2 separate regions of the Homo sapiens genome follow, and region 1 is linked to region 2. Evidence: fine-mapped expression QTL. A gene starts in region 2. The other region holds a variant in brackets. All regions are shown on one strand. Distances are between the middles of the regions.

Region 1 (5,373 bases), 870 kb before region 2:
ACAGACACATAGAGCAATGAAACAGAACAGAGACCTCAGAAATAACACTACATGCGATCCTCAACAAACATGGCAAAAACAAGCAATTTGGAAAAGATTCTCTATTTAATAAATGGTGCTGGGAAAACTGGCTAGCCATATGAAGAAAACTGAAACTGGACCCCTTCCTTACACCTTATACAAAAATTAACTAAAGATGGATTAAAGACTTAAATGTAAAACCCCAAATCATAAAAACCCTAGAAGAAAACCTAGGCAATACCATTCAGGACATACGCATGGGCAAAAACTTCATGACTAAAACACCAAAAGCATTTGCAACAAAAGCAAAAATTGACAAAATGGATCAATTAAACTAAAGAACTCCTCCAAAGGGGAAAAAAACTAGCATCAGAGTGAACAGACAACCTACAGAATGGGAGAAAAATTTTGCAATTTACCCATCTGACAAAGGGCTAATATCCAGAATATATGAGGAAATTAAACAAATTTACAAGAAAAAAATAAACAAGCCCCTCAAAAAGTGGGCAAAGGATATGAATAGATGCCTCTCAAAAGAAGACATTTATGTGGCCAACAAACATGAAAAATAGCTCAACATCTCTGATCATTAGAGAAATGCAAATCAAAACCACAATGAGATACCATTTCACACCAGTCAGAATGGCAATTATTAAAAAGGCAAGAACCAATAGATGCTGGTGAGGCTGCGGAGAAATAGGAACACTTTTACACTGTTGGTGAGAATGTAAATTAGTTCAACCATTGTGGAAGACAGTGTGGTGATTTCTCAAGGATCTAGAACCAGAAATACCAGTTGACCCAGCAATCCAATTCCTGGGTATATACCCAAAGGAATATAAATCATTCTACTGTAAAGACACATGCACACATATTTATTGCAGCACTATTTAGAATAGCAAAGACATGGAACCAACCCAAATGCCTATCAGTTATAGACTGTATAAAGAAAATGTGGTACCTATACCCCAGCAAATACTATGCAGCCATAAAAAAGAAGTTTATGTCCTTTGCAGGGACATGGATGAAGCTGGAAGCCATCATCCTCAGCAAACTAATACAGGAACAGAAAACCAAACACCACAGATTCTCATTCATAAATGGGAGTTGAACAATGAGAGCACATGGACTCTGGGAGGGGAATGACACACACTGTGGCCTATCAGGGGTTGGGGGGAAGGGGAGGGAAAGCATTAGAACAAACACCTAATGCAGGTGAGGCTTAAGACCTAGATGACAAGTTGATAGGTACAGCAAACCACCATGGCACAAGTGTAACTATATAACAAACTTGCATGTTCTACACATGTATTTTGAAACCTAAAGTAAAATAAAAATAAAATAAAATAAAATAAATGCTAAAAGGAGTTATAAATCTTGAAACAAAACCTTGAAATACACCAAAATAGAGACCCCTTAAATTACAACTCTCAGAGTCTACAAAACAATAGCACAATGGAAAGAAAAAAAGTATTAAGGCAACAACAACTAAAATGATGAACAGAACAGTACCTCACATCTCAATAGTAACATTGAATGTACATGGCCTAAATGCTCCACTTAAAATATACAGAATGACAGAATGGATAAAAATCCAGCAACCAAGTATTTGCTGTCTTCAAGAGACTCGCCTAACCTATAAGAATTCACATAAACTTAAGATGAACAGGAGGGGGTTCAACCCAAGTGGAAACCAAAAACAAGTTCAACACAAGTGGAAACCAAAAGCAAGTGGAGTAGCTATGCTTAAATCAGGCAAAATAGAGTTTAAAGCAATAACAGTTTAAAAACACAAAAAAATCATTATTATATAATGATAAAAGGTATAGTCCAATAGGAAAATTCTAAATATATATGCACCTAACACTGGAGCTCTCAAATTTATAAAACAATTACTACTTGGCCTAAGAAGTGAGATAGATGGCAACACAATAATAGCAAAGGACTTCAATACTCCACTGACAGCACTAGAAAGGTTACCAAGACATAAAGTCAACAAAGAAACAACGGACTTAAACTATGGCTTGAAACAAATGGACTTAACAGATATTTACAGCACATTCTGCCCAACAACTGCAGAATATACATTCTTTGCATCAGCACATGGAACATTCTCCAATATAGACCATATGATAGGCCACTAAAACAAGTCTCTATCAATTTAAGAAAATCAAAATTATATCAAGTATCCAAGACCACAGTGAAATAAAACTGGAAATTTACTCCAAAAGAAACATCAAAAGCTATACAAATACATGGAAATTAAAATATCTGCTCTTGAATGATCATTGGGTCAACAATGAAATCAAGATCAAAATTTTAAAATTCTTTGAGCTGAATGATAATAGTGACACAACTTACCAAAACCTCTGGGATACAGCAAAAGCAGTGCTAAGAGGAAAGTTCATAGCATTAAATGCCTATATCAAAAAGTCTGAAAGAGCACAAATAGACATACCTCAAGGATCTACAGTCACACCTCAAGAAACTAGAGAAAAAAGAACAAACCAAACCAAAACCCAGCAGAAGAAAAGATATAACAAAGATCAGAGCACAACTAAATGAAATTGAAACCAAAAAATAATAATTCAAAAGATAAATGAAATAAGCTTATTTTTTGAAAAGATAAACAAAACTGATAGACCATTAGTGGGAATAACCAAGAAAAGAAGAGGAAAAAATCCAAATAAGCTCAATTAGAAATAAAACAGGAGATATTACAACTGATACCACAGAAATACTAAAGATCATTCAAGGCTACTATGAACACCTTTACTCACACAAACTAGAAAACCTAGAGGAGATGGATTAATTCAAGGAAATATATAACCCTCCCAAATTAAATCAGAAGGAAATAGAAAACTCTGAACACATCAATAACAAG[C/T]AGCAATATTAACAGTAGTAAAACAAAAGCCAACAAAAAAAGTCCAAGACCAGATGAATTCACAGATGAATTCTATCAGACATTTAAAGAACAATTGGTACCAACTTTAATACTATTCCAAAAGACAGAGAGAGGGAAATCTCCCTAAATCATTCTATGAAGCCAATATCAACCTAATTCCAAAATTAGGAAAGGACATAATGGAAAAAAAAATAAAGACCAATATCCCTGATTAACATAAATGCAAAAATCCTCAACAAAATACTAGCTAACCAAATCCAACAACATATCAAAAAGATAATACACCATGATCAAGTGAGTTTCATAACTGGTATGCACGAATGATTTAACATGCACAAGTCAGTAAATGTGATACATCACATAAACAAAATTAAACACAGAAATCGTATGATCATCTCAATAGATGGAGAAAAAAGCATTTGACAAAATCCAGCATCCCTTTATGATTAAAACCCTCAGCAAAATCAGCATAGAAGGGACATACCTCAGGGTAATAAAAGCCATCTATGACTAACCCACAGCCCACATTATACTGAATGGGGAAAAGTTGAAAGTATTCCCCTGAGAACTGGAACAAAGCAAGGATGCCCACTTACACCACTTTTATTCAACATAGTACTGGAACTCCTAGCCACAGCAATCAGACTAGAGAAAGAAATGAAAGGCATCCAAATCAGTAAAGAGGTTGTCAAACTGTTGCTGTTCACCAATGATATGATTGTATACTTAAAAAACCCTGAAGATTCAACCAAACACTCCTAGATTTGACAAATGAGTTCAGTAAAGTTTCAGCATACAAAATCAATGTACATAAATCAGTAGCACTGCTATACACCTACAATGACAAAGCTGAGAAACAAATGAAGAACTCAATCTTTTTTAACAACAGCTGCAAAAAATAAAATAATATAAAATACTTAGGAATATACCTTACCAAGGACATGAAAGACCTCTACAAGGAAAACTACAAGACACGGCTGAAAGAAATCAATGATACAAATGGGAACACATCCCTTCCTTACGGATGGGTAGAATGAATATAGTGAAAATGACCATACGGCCAAAACCGATCTACAGATTCAATGCAATTCCTATCAAAGTATTTATTATCATTTTTCACAGAACTACAAAAAAAATTCTAAAATTCATATGGAACTGAAAAGACCCCACATAGTCAAAGCAAGACAAAGCAAAAGGGACAAATCTGGAGGCATCACATTACCTAATTTCAAACTATACTACAAGGCTATAGTTACCAAAGCAGCATGGTGCTGGTATAAAAATAGTCATGTAGACCAATGGAACAGAATAGAGAACCAAGAAATAAAGCCAAATACTTGCCACCAACTGATCTTCACCAAAGCAAACAAAAACATAAAGTGGGGAAAGGACACCCTATTCAACAAATGGTGCTGAGATAACTGGCAAGCCACATGTAGAAGAATATAACTGGATCCTCATCTGTGACCTTACACAAAAATCAACTCAAGATGGATCAGAGACTTAAATCTAAGGCCTAAAACCATAAAAAATTCTAGAAGATAACATCAGTAAAACTCTTCTAGATGTAGGCTTAGGCAAAGAGTTCACGACCAAGAACCCAAAAGCAAATGCAACAAAAACAAAAATAAGTAGATGGGACTTAATTCAACTAAAAAGCTTCTGCACAGCAGAAGAAATAATCCACAGAGTAAACAGACAACCCATAGAATGGGAAAAAATATTTGTAAACTTTGCATCTGACAAAGGGCTAATATCCAGAATCTGCGAGACACTCAAATCAGCAAGAAAAAGCAAATAATCCAATCAATAAGTGGGCTAAGGACATGAATGGATAATTCTCAAATGAAGATATGCAAATGGCCAATAAACATGAAAATATGCTCAATATCATTAATTATCAGGGAAATGCAAATCAAAATGATAATGCAATACCACTTTACTCCTGCAAGAATGCCCTTAATCAAAAAATTTAAAATAATAGATGTTGGTGTGGATGTGGTGAAAAGGGAACAATTTTACACTGCTGGTGATAATGTAAACTAGTACAACCGCTACATAAAACAGTATGGAGACTCCCTAAAGAACTAAAAGTAGAACTACTATTGACCCAGCAATCCCACTACTGGGTATTTACCTAGAGAAAGTTATTAAATGAAAGACACTTGCACATGCATATTTATAGCATCACAATTCACAATTGCAAAAATATGGATCAAGCCCAAATGCCCATCAATCAATGAGTGGATAAAGAAAATATGTCATATATACATCATGGAATACTACCCACCCATAAAGAGGATTAAATAATGGCATTTGAAACAGCCTGGATGGAGTTGGAGACCATTATTCTAAGTGAAGTAACTCAGAAGTGAAAAATCAAATATCATAGGTTCTCACTTGTAAGTGGGAGCTCAGTTATGAGGACACAAAGGCATAAGAATGAT
Region 2 (5,373 bases):
GAATTTTTCTCTTCTCAGCTGCTGTCACTCTCAGAAAAGTGGCAGAGATTTGGGGACTTGCAGCATCCAGGGTTGGAAGTCGCCTGCCTGAAAGCCATGTCCAACCCTTTGGCTTGATAGAGAAACTGAGGCCTAGAGGACAGAGGCAGCTGGGTTTGGGGTGGGATCCCAGGGGAAACTGCTATTTCCTGGCTGGGTGACCTTGGACTGGTCAAAGAACCTCTCTGTGCCTGTGCATCCCCACTTGTAAAATGGAACTAATAATCCAGGTGCTCCCTGCACTGACCCCGCAGGGCTGCTCTGAGGGTTGAGCACAGGCCTGACCATGGCCCAAGCAGGGCTCTATTCACAGCTGTGGCACCGCCCTCAGCCCAGTGCCTGGCACAGAGCTGCTGGGTAACCATCTGGTAAGTGAATGGTTCCTGAGCATCCAGCTGGCAGCACCAGCCCCTGGGATGCTCGTTTCTAACAGATTCCCAGGGCCTTGGTCCACCCCTCTTAGGTGGGGGATAGGCACGTGCATTCTTAGCAGCTCCCTAGAGCTCTCCTGCGTGTTTTGTTACAACATGTTATTTGTGAACGGGCAGTACATGCTCATGGTACAAAAGGGTAGTCAGGACAAAGCTCCCACCCGTGCCCACATCCCCATCTCCTAGACCCCCTCCCCAGGGGCAGGCCCTGCTACCAGGTGCTCATAGCTTCCTGGGGAAGCCAGAGCCAGCCGCCCCTGGCTAGATAGCTCCTACAGGACCAAGGGGAGAAGTTCTATTCTATCCTCTCCCTCCATCTCAGACACTCTGTGACCTGGGGTCTCCTAAGAAGAGCAGCAGCATGCTTCCCACACCCTGGCCAGCCCTGGGCGCCACCGGAGAGTCACCTACCTTCTGAGCGCAGCATGGTCCCCATCTCTAGGGGAATGACAAGCAACGGGAAGACCCCACTGAGCCCCACCATGAGGGAACCCAGGAGGGAGCAGATCCAGGTGTCCAGCCGCTCTCCGCTCAGCAGAGCCCCCCAGGACTCGCTTTCCTTGTTGTCCAGGCGACAGGCCGTCGCAGTCCCCCGGCTCCGGAGGGCCGGCTGGGAACCCCCAGCCCTTTCCAAGAGCTCCAGGGCAAGGGCAGTGAGGAAGAGGAGCCTTGGGCCCGCCATGCCACAGCCAGGGCAGGGACATCCAGGCATGCCACGTACTGAAAAACACAAAAGGCCACCTATATGAGCTACAGCCTTGGCCGCACACCTGCTTAGGAAACGTGGCGCCTCCCTCCTCCCCGCAAGGGACCCTGGCATCCACCCTCCTGCTGTCCTTGCCAGAGCGTCTGAGCATCCAAATGCTGGGTGCACAGCAATGGGGCCCTGTGTCTCCACACCCTACTCCTGAGCACTGCGTATTTTTTCCTTCTGAGCAGCTCCAGACTGTGTCAGCACCTCCGCCTGAGGCTAAACTTTCCCTAATGACAGGGTGAGGCGCTGGCTGGCTCTCCTCAGCCACCGGCGGCACGGCCCGGCCCAGCTGGGTGTCTCTGGCTGCCAGGGGAGGCCCTGCCGCCCGCGACACCCCAGAGACTGAGGCACCCCTTCTAAGGGGATGGGGTGGATTCAGAGAGACATACGTGGGGAAACTGAGCAGATGAGCCAGGGCAAGACCATCCACGCTTCTTCCTAGGACATGAGACCAATGTCCCCAGGGCACTGAGGGCAACAGGAGATGGGGCTGATGAGGAAGGAGCCTTTAGCCAGGGGATGCCTCTCTCTTGTATAGCGCAGGCTTTAGAGCCCCCACGGTGAATTCTATGCTGCACTTTGAGCTGTCTAACTCTGGGCAAATCTCTGAAGCCCCCCCTCTGAGCCTCAGTGCCCTCATCTGCAGGACAGGGATCAATATCACCTGCCTCAGCTGTGAGGACGAGATAAGCCTGAAAGTGCAGGTGGATGTACCCGGCATGAGGAGGCGCAGAGGCCCTGCCTGTGCCAGGGAAGGCCTGGGGCTCCCTGCAGCAGGAATGTGCCCAGCCGGCCGATCACAGGATGTGGACGTGAGTCAACCAAGCGAGAAGTTCCATCTGGAAACTCGGGCATGAGGTTTAAATGTGGTCTGCTCTGCCTCAGGCTGGCTGTGACCTTGAGCTGGTGATGTCCCTGCCTCAGTTTCCTCACCTTCTGATGGAGATGGGAGGGGAAGAAAGCAGCTGCCTCTGGGTGGTGGCAGAGATGCCCATGTCTAGGACCTCCAGGCCTTAACTAATCAGGGGCACTGATGAAGCCAGCGGGGCTCCACTGGGGACCACAGGCAAGACTGGGCCAGGACGAGGCGGTCACGCAGAGGTGAGGGGACCACAGGCTAGCGGGAGGGAATACACGGAGAGTCCAAGGGGAGAGGAAAGTAGAGAGTGAGAGAGCTAGAGAGAGGCGGGTGGGACGCGGAGAGGACAGCGAGGGAGGGATGGGGCGTGGGGCGCGGAGCGATGGGGGAGAGGAGGCCGAAGCGGGCGAGCCTGACTCCCGGGTCCTGGGAGCCGGCCCAGGTCTGATGAGGACCAGTCGGACGGGGCGAGGGATCGGCCGGGTCCATCACGCCCGGGGCGCGGGCCCCGAGGGTCCTGCTGGCACTCACCGTGCGGCGGCGGCGGCGGCGATCCGGGCGGCCCCAGCCATCCAGCTGCGGTGCCGCGCCCCGCCCAGGCTCTGCCCCGCCCGGCCGCCCGGCCGCCCGGCCCCCGGCCCGGGGCCGCCCCCGGCGCGCGGCCACGTCACAAGGGGCCTGTCCGGAACCCGAGGCGCCGCGTGCCGCGGGGTCGGGGGGAGTGGCGGCGGGAGGGCGCTTCCGCCTCGCGGCGGTGGGGGACCCGGGTAGAGGGCGCACTTCCGTTTGGGCAGGGCTGCGGGCCGGAGGGGAGGGTCGGTCGGAAGTGAGAGAGCCACACGCACCGCGCTCAGCCAGGCTGGGCAGGGACGGAAGCGGCGGCTCTGCGGGGACCGCGATCGACCAGGCTGCGGGGCTTGCGGATCTGGCCGCCGCTTCCCGTCCAGGGCCGCAGTCTGCCCGTGGCCGCACGGGGGCGCGCCCGGCCGCCAGACCACGCCGCCCAGGTCGGGCTGGGAGGACTACTGTGCGCTCCTGCTCTGAGTCAGCCCGGCCTGGCTCCTCCATGAGCAAGGGAAAGGGGAAGTGCCTGCCGCAGGGAGGGGCCTGGCCCCGGGAACCTCAGAAGAGGGAATTTTATTCTTACTCATCGAATTATTTTTATGCTTTGGTTTTTCACTGGGAACCTCAGGCCACTGTCTCCAGGGCTTGTAACCCTTTGGGGTCCAATGCATGGTGGCTGGACCCTGCTGATGGGAACTCCAAACCTGGGAGGCGAGGGCTCTGTGCTTCCCTCACCTGGAGGAAGCTAGACCTGACCTCTTTGGTTAGACTAAGGCAGCAAACACTGGATAGCAGTTCTTATAACCGCAATTTACTGACCACCTACTATGTGCTATTCACTTTACTCGCACTATCTCACTGAATCCTCATATTATCCCATTGTGGTGGGTACTGTTAGCCCAGGGTCACACAGTGGCACAGATGGCAGAGCCAGGATTCAAACCTGGGTGTCCTGAAGCCAGAGTATGTGATACCACTTCTCACGTCTAGGTCCTGAACAGCAGTGGGAGTCTGGCTTGGCGTTTCGAGTTTGTATTCTTCTCTGGAAATCAGCCAGTACAGGAGAAGATTCAGGAAGGGGCATGTGGGTACTCACTTGGGCAGAGATAGCGACTGAGTACAGGTCTCTTAAGTCTCTGACCCTCATCAGCCTCCCATGGCAGCTCCAACCATTTACTCTGTCACTTTCCCCTCTGCTGGGGCTCTTGAGAGCACACTCAGCTCTCAGGGCTGCCTCTGGTGCCTGTCCCACTTCATGTTGCACTGTTGGCCTTCCTTAGACCGCCAACTTCTCCCTGGTGGCCCAGCTTGTCTTCTGAAGCTTTCTGTCCATCTCACCCCACCGGGCCCATACAACTGCCAGGACGTTCTGTTCCCTCCCTGAGTTCCAAAATGGAATCCCTGGGTTAGTTTCTTGGCAAAGAAAAGCTACTCAGGGATCCTGCCCTAGGACTTCTAAAATGCCCCCCTCCCTGTATGCAAAAGCGCTCCATCTTATGCAAAGCACTTCACAATATGCAAATGATTTCACAATAACACAGTCAGCATTCCTGCCTCTGGAGGCTGAGCGCTCCTGGCCACCCAACAAGGGGATGGGCAAGACCCAGCCAGAAACGTTACTTGGTGCCAATGCACTACCCTTTCCTCCCACCTGGCCTGGAATTCCCATCGGATACCTAAGGCCCGGTGGCTCACATCTGTAATCCCAGCACTTTGGGAGGCCTAGGAAGGAAGATCTTTTGAGCCCAGGAGTTCCAGACCAGCCTGGGTAACAAACTGAGAACTGGTCTCTACAAAAAAATTTAAAATTAGTCAGGTGTAATGGTGCGCACCTGTAGCCCCAGCTACTCAGGAGGCTGAGGTGGAAGGATTGCTTGAACCCGGGAGGTCAAGGCTGCAGTGAGCCCTGATCGTGCCACTGCACTCCAGTCTGGGTAACAGAGCGAGACCCTGTCTCAAAAATAAAAAAATAAAAAAAATTACAAATTAATAAAATTGCAGGGGTTTCCAGGTGTGTGAGAAAAGTGAGATGCAGAAATATTTATTTAATATGATCCACTATTTTTATTTTTTAAGAGACTATTTTAAAATAATGACAAAAAGAAACCTTGTATATGTGTATGTGATTAAAGGTATCAGTATATATAAGTCTATGTATAATGAATACATAAAAAACATAGATAACACATTAAAGTGATATTATGGATTCTATGGTGGGAGGAACTAATGTGAATAGGGAAGGAAAAAATGTTAAAGGAAAACAACACATTAAAAGATGTGTATGGCCATATATGGCTGGGCATGGTGGCTTATGCCTGTAATCCCAGCACTTTGGGAGGCCAAGGTGGGCAGATCACCTGCGGTCGGGAGTTCAAGACCAGCCTGACCAACATGGAGAAACCCCCTCTACTAAAAATACAAGATCAGCCAGGTGTGGTGGCGCATGCCTGTAATCCCAGCTACTCGGGAGGCTGAGGCAGGAGAATCGCTTGAACCTGGGAGGTAGAGGTTGCAGTGAGCCGAGATCGCGCCATTGCACTCCAGCCTGGGCAACAAGAGCGAAACTCCATCTCAAAATAAATAAATAAAAGGTGTATATGATCACATGTATGCAATGTGTAAAATTGTATACATATATCAAATCTCATCTCAGATATATGAAAATCTCACTATATAAAATCTCTTTCTCTTTCTCTTTTTTTTTTTTTTTTTTTTGAGACAGGGTC

The links. PIP is the estimated chance that this variant, and not a neighbour inherited with it, causes the effect. A credible set is the group of variants that fine-mapping cannot tell apart.
Region 1: its variant is the best candidate, but not a certain one, in a credible set for the expression of SLC39A13 in whole blood (TOPMed, PIP 0.79).

The regions. Positions count from the first base shown.
Region 1 is chr11:48,279,712-48,285,084 of GRCh38, reverse strand. No RefSeq gene overlaps it. Among named protein-coding and RNA genes, the nearest start is that of OR4X1, 19 kb to the right of the region's middle. The variant C/T (reference allele first, on the strand shown) is at 2,906.
Region 2 is chr11:47,405,904-47,411,276 of GRCh38, reverse strand. SLC39A13 (solute carrier family 39 member 13) reads right to left here and starts at 2,687. Exons shown (of 10, transcript NM_001128225.3): 1 at 2,615-2,687; 2 at 882-1,190. The coding sequence starts at 1,182. It overlaps SLC39A13-AS1 (SLC39A13 antisense RNA 1), which reads left to right and starts at 1,995. Exons shown (of 4, transcript NR_182308.1): 1 at 1,995-2,325. RefSeq lists enhancers at 563-1,427, 1,428-2,294, 2,583-3,405 and a silencer at 2,385-3,174.